Regions from separate parts of the Homo sapiens genome. Here region 1 is linked to region 2. Evidence: fine-mapped expression QTL. A gene starts in region 2. The other region holds a variant in brackets. All regions are shown on one strand. Distances are between the middles of the regions.

The links. PIP is the estimated chance that this variant, and not a neighbour inherited with it, causes the effect. A credible set is the group of variants that fine-mapping cannot tell apart.
Region 1: its variant is the best candidate, but not a certain one, in a credible set for the expression of LASP1 in monocytes (TOPMed, PIP 0.74).

What each region holds. Positions count from the first base shown.
Region 1 is chr17:38,899,320-38,903,696 of GRCh38, forward strand. All of the region lies in intron 4 of LASP1 (LIM and SH3 protein 1), which reads left to right. Among named protein-coding and RNA genes, the nearest start is that of MIR6779, 13 kb to the right of the region's middle. RefSeq lists enhancers at 1-414, 2,045-2,670. The variant G/A (reference allele first, on the strand shown) is at 1,945.
Region 2 is chr17:38,868,239-38,872,615 of GRCh38, forward strand. LASP1 (LIM and SH3 protein 1) reads left to right here and starts at 1,820. Exons shown (of 7, transcript NM_006148.4): 1 at 1,820-2,020. The coding sequence starts at 1,952. It overlaps TRC-GCA4-1 (tRNA-Cys (anticodon GCA) 4-1), which reads right to left and starts at 1,125; the gene lies at 1,054-1,125. RefSeq lists enhancers at 1-73, 74-674, 250-429, 1,920-2,069, 3,082-3,683 and silencers at 30-129, 1,550-1,859, 2,380-2,479.

The sequences.
Region 1 (4,377 bases), 31 kb after region 2:
GCTGTCTTCGTGTCTGGAACAGGAAGGGATCAGTGAGCTGCCCATTGTTGCTCTGGGCTGAGGAACTGGGGATAGAGATTGCCGGGGGAGCCTGGCTTTCCGGTGGTCTCAGCACCCACTCCCTGGGCTCCACATCCCTTCCTACCCTCCACCTGGCCACCTCAGCAGGGCGCTCCTTTAAGAGCTTGGCTGGGCCGTGCATAGAGTGGGCTGCAGTGGTGGGTCAGGTGGATTTCAGAAGCACAGGCAGCCCACAGACAGCAGAACCAGCCATGCCCAAAATGGTGGCTTTCAAACTCTGACTTCAGCCTACAGTAAAATATACATTGTACGTCTTGACCCATCTGACAGGCATACATTTATGTAGAGGGAAAACAGAATGGAAGCTTTCATGAATGAGTACTTCCTACTTAGAGGGCGTTCAGATCTTTTTTTTTTTTTTTGAGACAGAGTCTCACTCTGTTGCTCAGGCTGGAGTGCAGTGGTGCTCCGCCTCCAGGGTTCAAGTGATTCTCCTGCCTTAGCCTCCCAAGTGGAGTAGCTGGGATTACAGGTGCACACCACCACCCCCGGCCAATTTTTGTATTTTTGGTAGAGACAGGGTTTCACCATGTTGGCCAGGCTGGTCTTGAACACCTGACCTCAGGTGATGTGCCCGCCTTGGCCTCCCAAAGTGCTAAGATTACAGGTGTGAGCCACCGCACCCGGCCACATTCAGATCTTTTCTAAAGATGCTGGTTGCAGGCCCCTATACACCCTCACATAATACAGCCCCTTTGAGGACTGTATTCCCAACACTTTGGGAGACTGAGGTGGGAGGATTGCTTGAGCCCAGGAGTTTGAGACTAGCCTGGGCAACATAGCAAAACTGTTTCTACAAAAAAAAAAAAAAAAAAAAAAAAATACAAAAACTAGCCAGGCATGATAGCACACGCCTGTGGTCCTAGCTATTCAGGAGGCTGAAGTGGGAGGATCACCTGAGCCCAGAGGTTTGAGGTTATAGTGAGCCGTAATTGCACCACTGCATTCCAGCCTGGGAAACCGAGTGAGACCCTGTTTCCAAAAAAAAAAAGGACCAGGCGCGGTGGCTCATGCCTGTAATCCCAGCACTTTGAGAGGCTGAGGTGGGCGGATCATGAGGTCAAGAGATCGAGACCATCCTGGCCAACATGGTGAAACCCCATCTCTACTAAAAATACAAAAATTAGCTGGGCGTGGTGGCGTGTGCCTGTAATCCCAGCTACTTGGGAGGCTGAGACAGAAGAACCGCTTGAACTCGGGAGGCAGAGGTTGCAGTGAGTCGAGATCGGGCCACTGCACTCCAGCCTGGCGACAGAGCAAGACTCCATCTCAAAAAAAAACCAAAAAGATGCTGGTTGCAGACTTACTGTGAATGGGTTTTGCAACTGGACTGTTGACCTGCAGTTTGAAGTTGGTGGCCTGAGGAAATGGCATGCTTCCCTTTGGCTAGCAGGGGATGCCTAGGGCGGGCACTCTAATCCTCCTTCCCCTCCAACTTCCAGAGGCCTGTCACAGTTGACTCTTTATATGCTAGGGCCTGGCCTCACGCCCTGGAGCTTCCCTTTGGCTCAGACCCTGCAAAGGGTAAGACCCTTAGGTCTGTGTTTCAGAGCTCTCGGCTTGGAAAGTGGGGGAGGGGGAAGATGGTCTTAGATTATGGGGAAAACCCGGAATGGTTCACAGAACTGGAATGTCGGCTCTTCAGCCTCTGCGGCTTTTCATGTAGAGGCTCTAGTCTTTTATCAGTGACACTTGCTCCCAATGTGCAACCCCAGCTCCCTGGCTGTTCACTCATTGCTTCACCCTGTGGGTTTTGGAGGAGGGGAGACAAGCCCAGTCATCCCTGCTTCCCTTTCTGGAAGGCTTCCAGAACACTCCACACTCAGCCTAAGCCACCTCCTCTTCTTCCCTCCCCCAGTTAGA[G/A]GTGTTAATATCCTAGTGACAAAACTCACCACCCTGGCCAAGCCATCCGCATCTCAGGAGATAACCATCTTTTACCCTTCTCGCGGTGCTGCAGTGAGCTAATGGTCCTCTGCAGGAGCTGGGGGAAGGGATCGACCCCGACCTGCTAGCTGCTTTTGCAGCTTTAGCAGAGACCTGTAGGGTGTGAATGCAAAGCCTGGAGACTCTTGGTTTTAATGAAAGCAATTACAGTCTGTCGGATATGGGCCTCCAGACAGCTGTAGCACAGTCACCTGTAGGGTTGACTGAAAATGCAGACTCACAGGCCTTCTCCCCTGGCTGCCAGAATCAGCGTCTCTGGGAGTGGGGCCCAGGAATCAGCATGTTAGACACATTCCCTGGGTTTCTGTGGTGCTCTCTGAAGTTTGAGAGCCACCACCTAAAAGTCTGAAAAAGCTTCACCAACCCCTAAGTCAGAGGGTGCCAGATCAGGCTGTACCTCAGAACCCCAGGGGAGCTTTATTTTTATTTTTATTTTTTTGAGACGGAGCCTTGGTTTATCACCCAGGCTGGAGTGCAGTGGCGCAATCTCGGCTCACTGCAACCTCCGCCTCCCGGGTTCACGCCATTCTGCTGCCTCAGCCTCGTGAGTAGCTGGGACTACAGGCGCCCGCCACCACGCCCGGCTAATAGTTTTTGTATTTTTAGTAGAGATGGGGTTTCGCCGTGTTAGCCAGGATGATCTTGATCTCCTGACCTTGTGATCCACCCGCCTCGGCCTCCCAAAGTGCTGGGATTACAGGCGTGAGACACCGAGCCCAGCCTATTTTTATTTTTGAGACAGGGTTTCGCTCCGTCATCCGGGCTGGAGTGCGGTGGTGTGTTCACGGCTCAGTGCAGCCTGAATCTTCTGGGATCAAGCCATTCTCCCACCTCAGACTCCGAGTAGCTGGGACCACAGGTGTGCACCACCATGCCCAGCTAATTTTTCTTTTTTTTGCAGAGACACTATCTTGCTATGTTGCCCAGGCTGGTCTCAAACTCCTGGATTCAAGTTATCCTCCCGCCTCAGCCTCCTAAAGTGCTGGGATTATAGGGGTGAGCCACCTCACCTGGCCTCCCAGGGGAGCTTTTTTTTTTTTTTTTTTTTTTTAATCAGAGACAGGGTCTCACTATGTTGTCTTAAACTCCTGGACTTAAGTGATCCGCCCACCTCGGCCTCCCAAAGTTCTGGGACTACTACAGGCATGAGCCACTGCGCCTGGGAGCTTTAAACCACACATAAAACCATTGCTAAGTTGTCCCAACCTCCTGAAGTGTTTTGGAAAATAGGGTGTTTAGAGCCACACCTTTTGTTTTGTATCCAAAATAGCATTCCTGTTCCTGTATGTAGCTTGTTGCTTTGCTTCCCAGATTAGCACCAAATGACTCCAGTTACTTTATTTATTTATTTTTAATTTTAGTTTTATTTTATTTTTGAGATAGAGTCTCGCTCTGTCGCCCAGGCTGGAGTGCAGTGGCGTGATCTTGGCTCACTGCAACCTCTGCCTCCCGGGTTGAAGCGATTCTTCTGCCTCAGCCTTCTGAGTAGCTAGGACTATAGGCACATGCCACCACGCCTGGCTAATTTTTGTATTTTTAGTAGACACAGGGTTTTGCCATATTGGCTCGGCTGGTCTCGAACTCCTGACCTCAGGTGATCCACCTGCCTTGGCCTCCCAAGGTGCTGGGATTACAGGTGTGAGCCACTGTGCCCAGCTGACTCCAGTTATTTCTAAAGGTCAGGCCATCTTACAAAAGAATGAGGATATGCTTCCTTGGAGGGATATGCTGCAGACTAGGGCTTTTTACCAGCCAGAGCATTTTAAAAACAAGTGTCTGATCTCCTCTGGGGTGTCTGCTTTGGATAAGTGCAGTCTGTCTTCAGTCTTGCTAAGTGGTGAGACAGTGAGGTAGGAAGAGATGGTAAGGGCCCAGATCCTAGCTTCTGTCATTCTGGGGCCAGGCAGGGCTCTTTGAGCCTCAGTTTCCTCATTTGTAAAAATGGGACAGTAGGCCCTACTTTGACAGGTGGTTGCAAGGAACATGCCAAGTGCTTGGCATGGGATAAATGATATCACTCTTATTATCATCATTATTATTTTTGAGACAAGATTGCCCAGGCTGGAGTACAGTGGCACGATCATAGGTCACTGCAGCCTCGAACTCTTGGGCACAAGTGGTCCTCTCCCGTCAACCTCCTGAGTAGCTGGTACTACAGGCATATAGCACCATGCCCAGCTAATTGTTATTTTTTTTGTAGAGAGAGGGTCTTGCTATGCTGCCCAGGCTGGAGTGTAGTCACGTGATCACAGCTCACTGCAGCCTTGAACTCCTGGGTTTAAGTGAACCCTGGCCTAAGACTCCCAGGTTGCTGGGATTACAGGCACACGCCATCACACCCAGTTATGTTGT
Region 2 (4,377 bases):
GAGGTAAAACTGGTTCCTCCTGGGTTTTGCACGGAACCGCAGCTCTGCTGATCTGTGATCTCTCTGTTCAGCCTAGAGATACAGCTCACAGTAATAGGAGCCAGGAGAAAAAAATGCGCGTTTCCCCGGGGTCCGAGGAATGACACAACCACATTCCGGGTTTAAAATATCGCAGCTGCCCTTTGACCCAGGCAGCACGCCTCTTCCTTTCTCCTTTATTTTTCCTTTTTTTGGGCAAAACCTAGTCGAGGGGGACGCCCTTGTCTCCCGTCACACTTACCATTTTCCTCCGGCCCAACAGTGACCCTGTCAGGCACGCAGCCAGCAGATACTTGTCCCCATCTTTAGGTTATGAAACTCCATGGCCTTTTATTCTTACTTCAGTGGTTCTTAAAATGTGGTCCCCACACCAGCAGCACCAGAGGCACCTGGAAACTTGGTAGAAATGCAAATTCTCGGGGCCCCCTTACAGAATCAGAAACTAGCAGTGTTTTAACAAGCCCTGCAGGTAATTCTGATGCACGTTCAAATTTGAGAAACACTGTGTTCGTTTATCTCAGTTTGCACTGGGTTATAACTTTACTTTTGTACATTAATAGTCAAGGATGAACACAGCACGTCCATGTCACCATTAATACAGAAAGTTGAAGTTGGAGAAGGGCTGTGTCTATGGGTTTCCCTCGCCTGACCCACCCTCCACCCCCAAAAGGAACGCCAAGTTGAGGCGTTCCCCTGTCTCCCTACCCCCATTGGAAACATCCTGTCCCTCAAACCCGGCACCTCGAACTGTCTGACCCATCTGAGGCTGGCGCCCGTGGCCGCAGAAATCCCTACACCTCTGGCGCGAGTAATGCGGTCGCGCAGCTTTTATACCCACCCCCTCCTCCCGCTGAGCACAAAGTAAAACCGAAAGATTTCTGCTAAGGTTGAAAAATGAGGAAGATACTTTTTCTTTTCTTTTTTTTTTTTTTTTTAGTCAGGACCCAATGTTAAAATGTGAGTCAAGAATGAAAAACAGATGGTTAACAAGGGGAAGGAAAAACCAAGCCATTGAGGGGGCACCCGGATTTGAACCAGGGACCTCTTGATCTGCAGTCAAATGCTCTACCACTGAGCTATACCCCCGCGCCTCTACAGCGCCTGGAGGCGGCTCCTTGGGTGCTAAGCATTGTTGCAGCTGCTACACTGTGAGTAGTGGTGTAACAGAAGGAGAAAGGAATGCTGGAGAAAAAGGGGTCAAGCTGAACGCAGACGGTGCCCGCATCCGGGGAACCCCGGGAAGGTGCACTGCAGGGGCTCGAGAGGGAAGCACTAGCCCGGGCCCGGCAGCGCGCAGGGTCCAAGAGGGAGGGACGGGTTCCGCCCCACAAATGTGGGAAAGGGTGTGGGCCGGAAGAGAGCTAAGAGGGGCAGGGTAGGGGGTCCCCGTTCGGTCCGCAGATTCATGCCGGGTAGAAAGTCCCCGAATGCGGTGAATCAGTTCCAGCGTTCAGGAGGATCCAACCCCACCCTCGACGGGCTTGAGGGGTTAGCCCGCCTCCCGCAGCCCGGGCGCCCCAGATGTGCAGCCTGCTCGCCTCTGCGCCGCCTCCGGCTGGGGAAGGGCCCTGGGCACCGGGCGCAGTCAGCCTGAGAGCGCTGAGGCGCCAGCACCGCGGGCCCCGCCGTCCCCCCAGGAACCCGCCCCCGCGCAGCCCCACGTCGCCCGGAGAGCGCGCCTCGCTGCGCGTGCCCTTGCCCGCGCCCGAGGCGCGTGCCCGCCCCAGTGCAGCCCCTCCTCCCCGCTGTGTTTATTAGGGGAAGGAGGGCGGAGGCGGAGGCCAGTTCCCCAGCTCCAGCCGCCGTCGCTGCTGCCTGTGTAGTTGCAGCCGCGGCCGCCTCCCGCCAGCTCGCCTCGGGGAACAGGACGCGCGTGAGCTCAGGCGTCCCCGCCCCAGCTTTTCTCGGAACCATGAACCCCAACTGCGCCCGGTGCGGCAAGATCGTGTATCCCACGGAGAAGGTGAACTGTCTGGATAAGGTGAGCCCGGGACCGGGAGACGCGTCTTTGCAATCCCCCGCAGTGCTCCGAATCCAGGGAGGAGAGAAGGGCCGGGTCTTTGCCGCCTTATCCCCGCGATCCCAGGAGAATGGAGGGAGGGCGAGCGGGCGGTGTCATGGGGTGTGGGGACACATCCCAGTCTGAAAACCAGGAGATCTGGGGCGAGGCGGGAAGTCCACGCGTAGCGGGCAGCCGCTGCTGGAGAGGGGTGGGCTCTGTGTCCCGGGGTTGGGAGGACGGGAGAGGAGCAGGGAAGTCAGGCGCCGGGGTGTGTTGGGGGAAGGTTAGGGGTGCAGTCCCGCCCCCTACGGCCTGGAGAGTGAGAAGAGACGGCCGCTCCCTCTCCGCTCTGCGCCGAGCGCCAAGTAGGCGGAAGCGCGGGGCGCTGGTGGAGGGGGCGGGGGGGCGGGGCAGAGGCTGGGGGGCCCTGCAAAACCGTCCGCTCCGGCGGGGGTGGCCTGGCTTCCTGGCCTGGCGGGGCGGGGGCTATCAGCCTGCGAGTGTGTGGCATCTGATGCGGGGGGTTTTGGGTAAGGACCCGGGCTCTGCCGCAAGAGCCCCGTTTTTGAACGACCTGCACCCCCTTGGATTCAGTCGTTAAAGGACTCGCAGACCTCCTCCACAGCTTCCCAACCCCCACCTCCAATTAAAAGCCAACTCCCGGTGCTGGGCCGTCCAGCCTGAGCCGGGTGGGGTTGGGTGGCAGAGTAGGGTGGGTGGAGGGTGCTTAGCTGAGATCTCCTGAAATTGTGCTCAGAGCCAGGAGACCGTGTGGAAGAACAAAGAGCTAACTTTTCAAAGCAGGTTTCTCCAATGGAGGGTGGGGTTGGCTGAGTTCTGGGGAAGCCGAGGAAAGGGGGAGGTATTGGGGGGAGGGGAGGGTGGCCTTGTGGAGATTCAGTGTCCCCTGGGGGCCCTGTCTCCCCAATGCTGGACTTGTTCATCTGGTTGCCATTAGACTTTTGGAGGGGGGTTGGAGAGTAGAACTGGGTGTTTCCCGTACAGTTTAGGGTAGGATCCTGTTCTCTTGTAAGCTCCGTAAGATCCTAAGGTAAAACCTGCCCCTCTGCATCCCCTCCCCAGTCTGGAGGGGAGGCCTCTGTGATTTTGTGCCCTTCCTCACCGCGTCTTTCATCCACCACCCAAAGCTGGCTCCAAGTCCAAGTATTCTGTCCTTTCCATCTGAACTGGGAGGGCTGGGAGGACTGGATGGAAGAGAGGTGCAAGGGTGGGAACACTAGATGAAAGAGGGGTATAGAGCCCTGGGGCCAAGTTCATTACTGACCTGGAGCCAGGTTTTGTTCAGGAGAGGATAGTTTATTGGACACCTTATCTCTCCCCTCCCCCTTGGTGTGTGAGCTTCCTCAGTGACCTTTGGCCTCTGAGTCAGCGTGAGGAGGTGGGGTTGGAGGTTCTGAAAGATATTTGAACTTGCTCTTGGGGAGTGTGGGCATATGGGGCCGCTGCTGTGTCACTGTTCCTCCTGGTCCTGGGCTTGACTGGGCAGGAGGAGAGGAGGGGGTATATTGTGGGCACGAGGAAAGTTGTTGATCTCCCCATGACCATGCCAGCCGCTGTTGGGCAGGACTTGAGCTTAGAGCTATCAGATAATGAAGTCTCCCCTTGAGAATGTACCTGTCCTTGCACACTGGGGTTTCGCCCGCCCCTCGTGGCAGAGATTTTGGCCTCTGCATCTTGAGTTCCCTGTGGTCCCCTTCTTCTCCACAGTCATGAATTGGGAAGAGGCAGTGGGCACTTGACCCGTATAAGGAAAAAGCAAAACATGAAGGCAGGATTGCCACTCCAGGAGTTGGGAAACTGGGTCCTTGTTCCAGGTCTGCTCCCACCAGTTTTATGAATGTCTCTAGGCCTCAGTATTCACCATCTGTCAGATGGGTATGATGATGTCATTTCCTTAAAGGTGGGGCAGTGCACTAAAGTCCCTGAGTGCTAAAGAGGGTGCTGTATAGACTATGCCCTCCCTACCTCTCTGGGATGCTCTGTTCAGCTCCACACCACTCCCCTTGGAAAGACCTTCAGTGCCGTGTACCCGAGGGGAGGGGAGCAGGGATGGGCAGGGTGCCCTCCCCAGTTCTCTTACCCTAGCTGGAAGAGGACGTTCAAGTGGGGGTTGCCCAGGGAAGTGGGAGTTGGTGATTCCTTCCTCTTTTTAGAACTCTCCCTATAGGAAGTGGCCCTGGAGAGACCTCGCCCCCTGTACTGAGCAGGAGACCTGAAATATCCAGGTATCAGACCTATTCCTCTCCACCTGCTCCAGGCAGTAAGGATAGGACCAGGAATGGGGAGCCAGTGCCTGGAGGATGCTGGGCTGTGAC